Linked DNA regions of Homo sapiens. The protein of the gene in region 1 interacts with the protein of each later gene in a biochemical or structural test. Each region holds a gene or a part of one and is shown in the gene's direction. Other genes may lie near its edges.

The links.
Region 2: the proteins of NXF2 (region 1) and NUP153 form a complex in vitro, tested with the Homo sapiens proteins (one study listed by BioGRID).

What each region holds. Positions count from the first base shown.
Region 1 is NC_000023.11:102,253,667-102,257,166, forward strand, and holds part of NXF2 (nuclear RNA export factor 2), read left to right. Parts: intron 1-3,500. UniProt on the Homo sapiens protein: Involved in the export of mRNA from the nucleus to the cytoplasm.
Region 2 is NC_000006.12:17,633,926-17,637,425, reverse strand, and holds part of NUP153 (nuclear pore complex protein Nup153), read left to right. Parts: coding exon 1-273; intron 274-3,500. UniProt on the Homo sapiens protein: Component of the nuclear pore complex (NPC), a complex required for the trafficking across the nuclear envelope. Functions as a scaffolding element in the nuclear phase of the NPC essential for normal nucleocytoplasmic transport of proteins and mRNAs.

The sequences.
Region 1 (3,500 bases):
TATGGATAGTAAAATAGTTACTATAGTGGAACAAATTAACATAACCCATTATGTCACATAGTGACCCATTTTTGGTTTTGGTAGCAGTAGGCGCTAAAATCTATTCATTTAGCAGAAATCCCGCATCATATTTAATAGTACAATTGTACAAACTGTATTCCAGCATGTTGTGCACTAGATCTCTAGTCTCTTTCATCCTACATATCTGCTACTTTGCATCCTCTGACCTACATCTCCCGCTTTCCTCCTCCCATCCCCTCCTCCCCACCCCGACCCTGATAACCACTGCTTTATTCTGTATCTCTGTATATTTGAGTTTTGTTTTACTTTTATTTTTTTAAGATTCCACATATAAGTGAGATCATGCAATATTTCTCTTTCTGTATCTGGATTATTTCACTATTATTTCATTGTTATAGCATAATGTCCTCCAGATTCATCCATGTTTTGGCAAATGGCAAGATCTCCTTTTTAAAGTGTATACATACAACACATTTTCTGTATCCATCTGTCCCTTGATGGACACCTAGGTTGTTTCCATATCTTGGCTATTGTGATTAATGCTGCAGTGAACATGGGAGTTCAGATACTTTTCAAAGATCAGCTACTTTCAAAAGGTGGTTATTTTATTTCCTTTAAGTAGATACCCAGAAAAGCAGTTGCTGGGTCATATGATAGTTCTCTTTTTCACTACCATATTTTTTTCTAAAATAGAAAAATGTAGAACTACCATTTTATTTACTAAAACAGAAAAAAAAAATCTATTTCTTTAGGTACCTCCATACTGTTTTCCATAATGATTGTCCCTATCTACATTCCCATCAACAGTGTACAAGGGTTCCCTTTTCTCCACACACTCGGCAATGTTTGCCATCTCTTGGCTTTTTGATAATAGCTATCCTAATGGTTGTATGGTGTTGCCTCATAGTAGCTTTTATCTGCATTTTCCTGATGATTAATGATGTTGAGCACTTTTTCATACACCTGTTAGTCAGTGTGTATGTCTTCTTTGGAGAAATGTCTATTCAGGTCCTTTGCCCGTTGTTTAAATTTGATTGTTTTTCTGCTATGGAGTTGTATGATTTCCTTACAAAATTTGGATGCTAACCCCTTATTCATACATATGTTTTGCAAGTATTTGCTCTCAATGTGTAAGTTGCCATTTCATTTTGTTGATTGTTCCCTTTGCTGTGCTTTTTAGTTCTTCTTATTCATTCCTAGGAAAATGATCTATTTCTCTGCTCAGTTGACTAATACTTGTAATGCAAGATTGAATAGGTGTGAGGTAGTAGGCATGCTTTCCTTGTTCCTGATCCCAAGGGAAAGCTTCGAGTGCCCCCCCACCCCATTAAATAAGTTACTAGCATTAGGACTTAGGTATATATGTTTTATCATGTTAAGAAAGCATCCTGTGGTGCCTATTTTCTTAAGGCTTTTCTATTTTTTAACATAAAGAGGTGTTGAATTTTTCCAAAGGCTTTTTCAACATCTGTGGTGATAACCATATGATATTTGTCTTTAAGTATATTAATATGGTGGATGATATCAAGGTACTTTCTAATATTGAGCCAATCTGTATTGATGGGATAAATCCCACTTTGCCAAAGTATATTATGATTTTTTAAATATGTTGTTTGCTAATATTTTATCTAGCATTTTTGCATCTACACTTATCTATCCATGTCACACTTGCTTCATAAAGGAAGTTATGAAAATTTCCTTTATAATGCTGTTGAATAATTTATAGAGCATTGGCACTCTGGTACTATCTGATCTTTGAAGGTTTAGTAGAATTGACCTGTAATAGCATCTGAGCCAGGTGCTTCTTGGGAGTTATTCCTTAATAACTTTTTCCATTTTTTTCTGTAAAAATTGGCCAAGTTAAGCCTTCCAGCATTAGAGTAAAAATCTTGATAATCTGTATTTTCCTAGGAAATTATTTATTTCATGTGTATTTTTAATTTCTTTATACACAGGTTTGAAAAGCAACCTAATTTTTTCTGTTTAAATGATTATCATTTGTCGTTTATTATTTTGTATATTTGTGCTCTCTCCCTTTCTTCCTTCATTAATCTGCCTAGTGAGTTTGTCCATTAAAAAAAAAACCAGGATTTTGATTTAATAAATATACACACATTGTTTTTCTACTATGTATCTTATTAACATCTGCTTATGTATTCATTCATTCATTCATTCATTCATTCATTTTAATGACCGAATCTCCCTGGATCACTCAGTCTGGAGTGCAGCGTTGTGATCACAGCTCACTGCAGCCTTGAGCTCCTGGGCTCAAGCAATCTTCCCACCTCCGCCTCCTCAGTAAGTAGGACTACAGGCATGTTCCATCACGCCCTGCTAAAGAATCATTATTATTATTATTATTACTGTAGAGGCAGGGTCTCCTTATGTTGCCCAGGCTGGTCTCAAACGCCTGGCCTCAAGTGATCCTCCCGCCTCAGCCTCTCAAAGTGGTTGGATTACAGGTGTGAGCCACCAAGCCCGGCAATTTCTGCTTTTATGTTATTTCTTTATTTGTGTTTCTTTTGGTTTCCCGGGTTGTTCTTTTATTAGATTTTTGAGGCAGTGCTTTAATTTGTCTAATTTTATTCGTTCATTTTCATTGATGAGAGTATTTAGCGCTCTGAATCTGCTTCCAATCACTGCTTTAACTATCTTCTACAGAGTCTCATATGTAAGCTCTTATAATCACTCTTCTTAAATATTTCTGTAACTTCAGTTGGTATCTCGTCTTTATCTCGACATTTGCTTAATAGAAGACTGAACATTTTTTCCAGGTAGAAGAGCCTTTGTGCTTTCAGTTTGTGTTAGTAAGTTCTACTTTTGTTGCATCGTGATTGCAGAGGGTTGGTTGTAATATTTCTACTTTATGGAAATTAGCGAGGCCTTCACTGTGAGGTAATTATGATCACGTTTTGTTAACGTGCCATCAGCTTTTGACAAGGTGGTATATTCTTTATCTCCAAGGTGTAGATTTATGTGTGTGTATGTATGCCTATGTGTGTATACACACACACAATGTATCTTATTGTGTTGTTTACATTTTCGGTATAGGTCTCTTTATTGTACCACTGGATTTGCCTTGTACTGAGACTTGCCATGTATTAAATCTCCTATTATTACTGTGCTTCAATGTCTCCATACCTTTTGGCATTACAAAGGTGGTTCCTATGTTATTTGGTGCATAAGTATTCCTAAGTATTATATATTCACTGTGAATTTTCAATTTTAATGTTAGCATGTAAACTTTGTCATTAAAAAAATTACTTTTAGCACCTGCTTTCTTATTGAACATTTTACTATCTGGTCCACTAGTTTGTTTTTAACCCCCAGTCTCCTTTTAACACTCATCTACTGCCTTATGAAAAAAAAAAAGTTTATTCTCTTTTTCTTTCTATCTCTCTCACTTCTCTTATTTTACTTGCACTATTTCTTTTTTTCCACAATATAAAATAAATGCACGTTAGTCATTTTCCTTGCTT
Region 2 (3,500 bases), on another chromosome or scaffold:
GTTTAGTGCAAAATAAACCTGAAGCAATAAAATGTGTAGCCTGTGAAACACCGAAACCTGGAACTTGTGTGAAGCGAGCCCTTACATTGACAGTGGTTTCGGAAAGTGCTGAGACTATGACTGCTTCATCTTCCAGCTGCACTGTAACCACTGGTACCTTAGGATTTGGAGATAAATTCAAAAGGCCCATTGGATCTTGGGAGTGTTCAGTATGCTGTGTTTCTAATAATGCAGAAGACAATAAGTGTGTGTCCTGTATGTCTGAGAAACCAGGTATGTTTTTGGCTTTATGGAGTAATTTTGCTTATTACTTCTGTTGAACAGTTTAATTTATTCTAAGAATCCTTGTTTTAGATGTTTCAGGATGAGCATTTCTCATACATATTAATTTTTCTAAACTATCTTGAGGTAAAAATGTCTTGTTTGCAGCTAGATCTTTATGTTCAGTTAGGATAGGTTATGTGTTAACTAGTCTGGTATATATGACGACCTCCTCTTTTTGTACAGTTTTATCAGAAATTTCTTGTTCAAAGTTGACTAATACAGATTCTGAAAGATCTTAGAATGGGGTAATATTTCTCAAACCTTTGTACAGAGTAAAATATTACTTCTCCAAATAGAAATCAGGATAGCTAGTGGTCATTTACAGGGAAGGTTTCTTTAGGGGGTAGACTATAGTCGTTAATGAAAAGGCTGTAGCTGTTGCAATGATTGTAAATTACCAAATCACTAATTCTAATCTAGGCAGCCAGAAACATGGAGTTAGTTTTGAGTTTTTTCTGTTTCTCTGTTCAAAGTTGGAAGAATTAGTGAAGATTCATATTGAATCTTTAACTCATCCAGAAGTGGATGATGGTTTTGTAATATTATATAATTATATGGTACAGATGTATGATAACATGGATATCCTGGGAATTACACTGTTTTCAATGCATTATTCATGAATATGCAGTTTTGTGTCTGTAATGTACAGCTCTGAGTTACTAACCTAGACCTTTTGCCTGAGCCCTCATGCCATATTTCTGATTCCTACTGGATATTTCCCTATGAGTAAGATTTTAGAATCTTCATTCCTTTTTTTTTTTTTTTTTGAGACAGAGTCTCACTGTGTCACCCAGGCTGGAGTGCAGTGGCACAATCTTGGCTCACTGAGACCTCCATCTCCCAGATGCATGCAATTCTTGTGCCTCAGCCTCTCAAGTAGCTGGAATTACAGGTGCATGCCACCACACCCAACTAATTTTTTGTATTTTTAGTAGAGACAGGGTTTCGCCATGTTGGCCAGGCTGGTCTTGGACTCCTGACATCAAGTGATCTATCCGCCTTGGCCTTCCAAAGTGCTGGGATTACAGGCGTGAGCCACCATGCCCGGCCTAGAATCTTCATTATGAAATATTTTTGTCTTCCCATCTGGTTCCCCTGCTCACCTACAAAAAGAAAGCCCTTGATGTATGCAGGAAAGCAAAATTAATTTTAAGTTGAAGGGGAATAACAAAACTTTGAGTCAGGAAGTAATTTGTTACACATGAACAAAGGAAGCTCACATATGTATTAAAGAACTTGGATGTCCTCCTTTCAATGATGAACCATCATTTTCAGCAGAGGAGTGATACAGTCAAGTTTGTATTTTTGATGAGTCACTGGCTTTTTAGATAATGGATTTGAAAACAAAAAAATTTGGAGACCGGAAGATAGATTAGGAAGTGGTATCAATCATATAGGCAATAGGCCAGACACTGTGGCTCACGCCTGTAATCCCAGCACTGGGAGAAGCCAAGGCGGGTATATTGCTTGAACCCAGTTTAAGACCAGCCCGAGCAGCATGGTGAAGCACTGTCTCTACAAAAAACACAAAAATTAGCCTGGCTTGGTGGCACCCGCCTATAGTCCCAGCTACTTAGGAGGCCAAAGTGGGAGGATTGCTTGAGCTCGGGAGGTAGAGGTTGCAGTTACCTGAGATCATGCTACTGCGCTTCAGCCTGGGTGACAGAGTGAGACCCTGTCTCAAATAATGATAGGCCGGGTGCGGTGGCTTACACCTGTAATCCCAGCACTTTGGGAGGCCGAGGCGAGTGGATCACCAGGTCAGGAGATTGAGACCATCCTGGCTAACACAGTGAACCCCTGTCTCTACTAACAATACAAAAAATTAGCCGGGTGTGGTGGCGGGTGCCTGTAGTCCCAGCTACTCGGGAGGCTGAGGCAGGAGAATGGTGTGAATCTGGGAGGTGGAGCTTGCAGTGAGCCGAGATCATGCCACTGCACTCCAGCCTGGGCGACAGAGCGAGACTCCGTCTCAAAAAAAAAAAAAAAAAAAAAAAGATAAGCCAAGCTGTGCAACCTGTGGGCTGCATGTGGCTTAGGATGGCTATGAATGAGGCTCAACACAGATTTGTGAATTTTCTAAAACATTATGAGATTCTTTTGCGATTTATTTTTTTTTTTTATTTTTTAATTTGTTTTAAAGCTCATCAGCTGTTGCTAGTGTTAGTATATTTTACTTGTGGTCCAAGACAATTCTTTTTGTCCAGTGTGGACTAGGGAAGCCAAAAGATTGGACCACCCCCGCCTCCCCTGCTGATACAGGCAATAGATAATGTACTGATCGAACTGAATAAGGAATGGAGGACATAAAATTAAAGACGTTGATTTCAAGCTGCTGAAGTCAACATTCAGATGTATGTAATGTGACCAGGCATGGTGGCTCACGTCTGTAATCCCAGCACTTCGTGAGGCTGAGGCAGGCAGATCACCTGAGGTCAGGAGTTTGAGACCAGCCTGGCCAACATGGCAAAGCCCTGTCTCTACTAAAAATACAAAAATTAGCTGGGCGTGGTCGTGGATGCCCGTAATCCCAGCTACTTGGGAGGCAGAGGCAGGAGAATAGCTTGAACCTGGGAGGTGGAGGTTGCTGTGAGCTGAGATTGTGCCACTCTACTCCACCCTGGGCAACAGAGTGAGACTCTGTCTCAAAAAAAAAAAAATGTATGTAAGGCCTTTGGATACACCCTTTGGGTGGAGATACGGATTTGGGGTCATTAATCCATAGTTTTGATATTTGAAGTCATGAGAGTAGAGTTGAGTGTGTTCACTCAAGATGGCCTGAAATGAAAGTCCGCTAACTTACAGGGAGTGGCAGGAATAAAGCTTTTGAACAGTTAATCTTTTAAAAAGGTGCAACCAGAAAGGAAAAACAAAAACTACATGGCACTGGTTGCTTCAGAGGAAGATGGATTTCAAAGGAACAGGATCAGAGGTCTCAATAAAAAAGCTGTTACTCAAGCAAGAGATGGGTTAGTGGTGGGAGTAATGGGGGGGGTTCATGAACCAGAATAGCAGTAGAAGAGTCAGAAATTGATTGAAATAGATTTGAGAAAAATGTAGAGGAGGAGGAGTATCCAGCCAAGCTAACCAAGTAAGACAGTGGAGTCACCAACTAAGAGACTACAGTGACAAGCTCAGAAGTGTAGATTGCAGGTGTAGATTAGGAAACTGTTTTT